Linked DNA regions of Homo sapiens: region 1 is linked to region 2. The links come from fine-mapping of genetic effects on gene expression. Tissue or cell type: whole blood. Region 2 holds a variant in brackets; the other region holds the start of a gene. All regions are shown on one strand. Distances are between the middles of the regions.

The links. PIP is the estimated chance that this variant, and not a neighbour inherited with it, causes the effect.
Region 1: NINJ2-AS1 starts here. The variant in region 2 is fine-mapped to the expression of NINJ2-AS1 in whole blood (INTERVAL, PIP above 0.99).

What each region holds. Positions count from the first base shown.
Region 1 is chr12:629,418-632,325 of GRCh38, forward strand. It overlaps NINJ2-AS1 (NINJ2 antisense RNA 1), which reads left to right and starts at 1,474. Exons shown (of 5, transcript NR_122124.1): 1 at 1,474-1,568; 2 at 2,797-2,830. All of the region lies in intron 1 of NINJ2 (ninjurin 2), which reads right to left. RefSeq lists silencers at 1,260-1,339, 1,400-1,499.
Region 2 is chr12:613,161-616,068 of GRCh38, forward strand. The region is part of intron 1 of NINJ2 (ninjurin 2); the gene reads right to left. Among named protein-coding and RNA genes, the nearest start is that of NINJ2-AS1, 16 kb to the right of the region's middle. The variant C/T (reference allele first, on the strand shown) is at 1,415.

The sequences.
Region 1 (2,908 bases), 16 kb after region 2:
CGGGGAGAGTACAGTACAACCCAGGATCCTGTCTTCCAGGTCTCTCCACGCAATTAACCTACTCAAAACTTCATGACAGTCCAGCAAGCTTGTCCAACCCACAGCCTGTGGGCCCCGTGCAGCCCAGGACGGCTTTGAACGCGGCCCAAAACAAATTCGTAAATTGTCTTAAAACATTATGAGTTCTTGGTTGGGCATGGTGGCTCACGCCTGTAATCCCAGCACTTTGGGAGGCCGAGGCAGGTGGATCACCTGAGGTCAGGAGTTTGAGACCAGCCTGACCAACATGGAGAAACCTCGTCTCTACTAAAAATGCAAAATTAACCAGGCCTGGTGGCGCATGCCTGTAATCCCAGCTACTCAGGAGACTGAGGCAGGAGAATCACTTGAACCTGGGAGGCAGAGGTTGTGGTGAGCCGAGATCGTGCCGTTGCACTCCAGCCTCGGCGACAAGAGCAAAACTCAAAAAAAAAAAAAAAATATATATATATATATATATATATATGAAGTTTCTTTGCGATTTTTTAAAAGTGTATCAGCCATTGTTAGTGTTGCTGTATTTTATGTGTGGGGCAAGACAATTCTTCCAATGTGGCCCAGGGAAACAAAACAATTGGACACCCTGGATGATGAAAAAGAGCACTCTTCAGCCCCTGCTGTCACCAAAGCCCCACCTCAGTTCTTGCCCTTAGGTAACGCCAAGATAGCAAAATGGAATTTTACCAAACCGCTCTTAGGTTCCTTCCCCAGGAGACCAGAAATGCCCTGGGGACTGCCTGCCTTTGAGGCAAATTTTTTTTCCTTTTTAAAGAAAGTGGTAAACATCTGAAAATAGAGTTTTTGAAAGAAAGTGACTCTTCAGTTGTAATTATAGCAGAGAGGGTCATTGCTTTCTATCAGCAAGAAAGCTGCTTCTATTTTTTTTTATTCTCTTTTTCTTGGTTTTTTGTTTTGTTTTGTTTTGTTTTGTTTTTTGAGACGGAGTCTCGCTGAGTTGCCCAGGCTGGAGTGCAGTGGTGTGATCTCGGCTCACTGCAAGCTCCATCTCCCGGGTTCAAGCGATTCTCCTGCCTCAGCCTCCCGAGTAGCTGGGACTGCAGGCTCCGGCCACCACGCCTGGCTAATTTTTTTTGTATTTTTAGCACAGACGGAGTTTCACCATGTTGACAGGCTGGTCTCGAACTCCTGGCCTCAGGTGATCTGCCCGCCTCGGCCCCCCAAAATGCTGGGATCACAGGCGTGAGCCACCGCTCCCCGCCGCTGCTTCTAAATACAGCCTGTATAATGCAAATCCCCAAAGAGGGCCAGCCTCTGGCCCCATTCAGCTTCCTCCCTCAGAGGCTGGGTGCGTGCGCCCTGGGCGGGGCGGCGGGCTCCCTCCGGAGAGGCCCCAGCCCGGCCTCGTGCCCCTCCCCAGCAGGCTTCCGGCCCTGCGCACAGACCCAAATGGCGCGGGAGGAGGAAGAAGGGGTCAGCTTCAAGCCTGACGTTCTAGGGGGGAGCCGCTTCTTAAGTACGTGCTAGGATCAAGGGTGCATTTGCAAACTTTTCAAAATGCCTTAGAGGAGGTAGGAGTCAAGCCCTTGGGATCTGGAGGGGAAGGAGGAGAGTCAGTTAAACCGCAGAAAGGTTGGTGGGGAGTGGGCTCAGTAATGGCCCCTGTCACAGCCTCGGGCCGGGACTCGCCAGCTCATTTTCTATTTCTAACTCAATGCCAGGCACTGAGCACTGTGCTCAACCTAGTAATTTGGAGACGGAGGTGGATATGCATATAACAGAACAGGATGCTCTCCGGACAAACGTTCTGAAGGAAAAGCAAACGGAAGATCCTCCCGCCTCTGCTGGGCAGTCTCTAATGACCCCTGGGGTATGTTCCAGACATGCGTGGGCATCTGCGAATTTACTCACCTGAGAGCTGCCTCTACCTTTTTTTGTTAAATTTTTATTTATTTATTTATTTATTTTGAGACGGAGTCTCCCTCTGTCACCAGGCGGGAGTGCAGTGGCGTGATCTCTGCTCAATGCAACCTCCGCCTCCCGGGCTCAAGCGATTCTGCTGCCTCAGCCTCCCGAGTAGCTGGGAGTACAGGCGCGCGCCACCACGCCCAGCTAATTTTTATATTTTTAGTACAGACGGGGTTTCACCATGTTGGCCAGGATGGTTTCTATCTCTTGACCTCGTGATCCGCCTGCCTCGGCCTCCAAAGTGCTGGGATTACAGGCGTGAGCCACCGCGCCTGGCCTGCCTCTACCTCTGATCCCTGGGATCAGAAATGAGAAATGCAAAGATTGTCCCTGTGTTATGTGTGTACTGTTTGTAATTGTAATTCACAATCCCCTTTCTTGCTCCTCACCCCATATTCAATTAAGAGAGAAAGGTGAAAAACACAAAGCACAAAATGTTTCCAGGAAACTATCTGAAACTCCTGGAAGGCTAGATTTAGGTATAAACAGAGTAGAACTCCAGATTTCTGCAATGCTCCTTAGGGGCTGAGCTTCCTGCATGCCCTTGACAATTAGAGGAGTTTTTTTTAATACTTCAAAATTATTCCAGAAAGGCATGCAGATGAGAAGATAACCAGGTTATGAGGAAGCCCAAGGTATTTGGTAAGGATGCTCAAGTTTTGGGGAAGGTCAGCTGAAATAGCAATTTGTGGGTGGACTATTAGCAGGGAGTTGACTGGAGAATTAATCAGACGTTGAAGGGACATGGGGGACCCGGGAGGATGAAGTCTGAACTCGGGCTCAGGATATGGAAAAAGATTGAGTAAAGCTGAGATTCCTGTGTGCTTAAAGTCCTAACCAGCCCCAGGGTGTCTGAGGCACGCTGGTAAGTAGAATCAGAGATTCCATTCAGCAAAAGCAGACAGGAAAACAAATCTCTTTTCTTTGTTTGTCCTGGTTGAAA
Region 2 (2,908 bases):
CACTAGGAATAGTTTCCCCATGCTAATGAGCAAAATCCCTGTGACAGCTATGTCAAATCAAGCATATCTGCGGCTCCTAAGAAAAATGAAAATGTATCCTTTTCTCCTTTTTCTGGGTCTTTCTCTATAATTCTAAATCTCATCACGCATTTTAAATAATAAATGGGCTGGGGGCGGTGGCTCATGCCTATAATCCCAGCACTTTTGTAGGCTGAGGCAGGTGGATCACCTGAGGTCAGGAGTTCAAGACTAGCCTAGCCAATATGGTGAAACCCCATCTCTACTAAAAGTACAAAAAATTAGCTGGGCATAGTGGCAGGCACCTGTAATCCCAGCTACTTGGGAGGCTGAGGCAGGAGAATTGCTTGAACTTAGGAGGCAGAGGTTGCAGTGAGCCAAGATTGCGACATTACACTCCAGACTAGGAGACAGAACGAGACTCTGTCTCAAAAATAAATAAATAGGCCGGGCGCGGTGGCTCACGCCTGTAATCCCAGCACTTTGGGAGGCTGAGGCGGGCAGATCACGAGGTCAGGAGATCAAGACCATCCTGGCTAATACGGTGAAACCCCGTCTCTACTAAAAATTCAAAAAATTAGCCGGGCGTGGTGGCGGGCGCCTGTAGTCCCAGCTACTCAGGAGGCTGAGGCAGGAGAATGGCGTGAACCCAGGAGATGGAGCTTGCAGTGAGCCGAGATCGCGCCACTGCACTCCAGCCCGGGTGACAGAGTGAGACTTTGTCTCAAAAAATAATAATAATAAATTAAATAAATAAATTAATTAATTAATTAAAAATGGCCTTTCTTCTCTGGAAGGAGCAATGATGGTACCTCCACCATGTGCCAGGCCCCACACTGGCATTTTCTTTCCAGGTGCTATTCATTTAAGCCCTTCCAGAAGCCACAGGCATGTGGGGTGGAGAAAGGCCAAGCAGCTTGTCCATAGCACGTGGCTAGTAAGAACAGTCTCTTACACGATGTCCTACTGCCTCCTAAAGAAGACCATCCTTAGCGATGGTTGCTGCCTTGACTTTCCAGCCTTCTCCACAGGCACCTGCTCAGCTTGGTTTGGGTCCATGGGTATTGGGAAGTTACTAATCCCACTGTGGTTTATACCTCATGACTTCTTGCATTCGGCTGAATATTCTAGACTGCATGAGGGAGAGGACTGTGTGTAGGTCCAGGGACTTGGTCTTGGGAGAACATAAGTCTGGGTCGTTGGGTGGTGGCAGAACAAAATGTTTGGAGATGGAATCTAGATGATCATCTGTGCGTGAGCTTCATGCCCAGGGGACATGGTGGGGTGGGGGTGGCGGTGTGCCTGTGTGCCCACGGGGGGCTCAGCAGATGGCACTCTTCCCTCACAGTCCTGCCGGGCCTGGCTCCCTCCCTCTGTCTTCTTCCCCTTGCATTCC[C/T]TACTTGCCTCTCTACATGTCTTCCTCCTCCATGCCTAGACGTTCTTTAGTACCTGTGCTCTAAGAGGATTCCTGCTTCCCTCTTATCCAGAGAAGTCACTTAGTTAGCTCATTTTTTTTTCCTCCAAAGAAGGGAACAAAGGCTTGACACCTCAGGGCTCGGCCTGCCTGTTTTTTGAGCTGTGTTTGCACCCAGAGCTGAGTGTCTGTCTAGCTCAGGTTCCCAGAGGCCTAGGGGCAAGACCATGTCTTCACACGTCGGGCAGCGTGCATTGTCAGCGCTCTATGAAAAACAAATAGCAGTTATGCAAAGACAAGGAAGCTGCTGGCTCATGGAGGCTGTGGTCCCGAGCTCAAAAGATGCAGGCTTGAGGTCTTAACTGCTTCCATTTAGCGCACAAGCCCACGTCCCTGACACCAGCCACAGGAGGATTCTGCACTCCCATGGTCTCTCTGAAGAGTCGGGAGAGCGGTTTGTGTGAATGTGTAAGGTAGGGGAGGACTCTCTGATTTCATTATGGATTATAGAAATAATAACCTACAGTCATCTTTCAGCTCTGATAAATGAGTGACTCTCAAAGGAGATATGCACGCCCCATTAGGAAGCTACATCCAAATCTCAGCAATCAGGGTGCTAAATGAGAACACCTTATATTTACCAAGAGGAGCATGATTTTTTTAAATGACTGACAGCTTTTCCAAAGGCTAGATCTCCTTCTCGTTCTTTTCTCTACTAAGAAACTCTGGCTCATGCCTGTAATCCCAGCACTTTGGGAGGCCGAGGCAGGTGGATCACCTGAGGTCAGGAGTTCAAGACCAGCCTGACCAACACAGAGAAATCCCGTCTCTACCAAAAATAAAAAATTAGCCGGGCGTAGTGGCGCATGCCTGTAATCCCAACTACTTGGGAGGCTGAGGCAGGAGAATTGCTTGAACCTGGGAGCCGGAGGTTGCAGTGAGCCGAGATCACACCATTGCACTCTAGCCCCGGGCGACAAGAGCGAAACTCCATCTTAAAAAAAAAGAAACTCTGCTCACCCTTCAAAGCCCAGCTCCACTGCCACAGCCCTTGGGAAGCCTTCCTCAGCTCCTATCGGCTAAATTTATCCCTCTTTCTCAGTTCTCCCAAAGCATTTGCTTCACTCCACTAGTACAGCACGTACCATGGGCTATTAGAGGGCTATGTGTGGGACTGTCATCCTGTGGGCTGCATGCATCCCAAGCACAGGAAATGTGCCTCACACGACTTCACATGCCCTTTTCAGGGTCATCTGACAAGCAAGGGAAAATCCTACAATTGGCAGAGCAGTTGTGTTGATGTAGGAAGTGTCTGAGAGGAAAGGGCTGAAAGGAAAAGTGAGGCACACTCTCGGAGAGCTAGAATATCATTCCAGGGGGTTTTAGCTAGGGTGAGGGGCTGCAGAAAGCAGTACTTGTAATGGGCCAGAGGTATAGTAGTTAGAGAAAGCTGATAAGAATTTGTTGCGGTAAAGG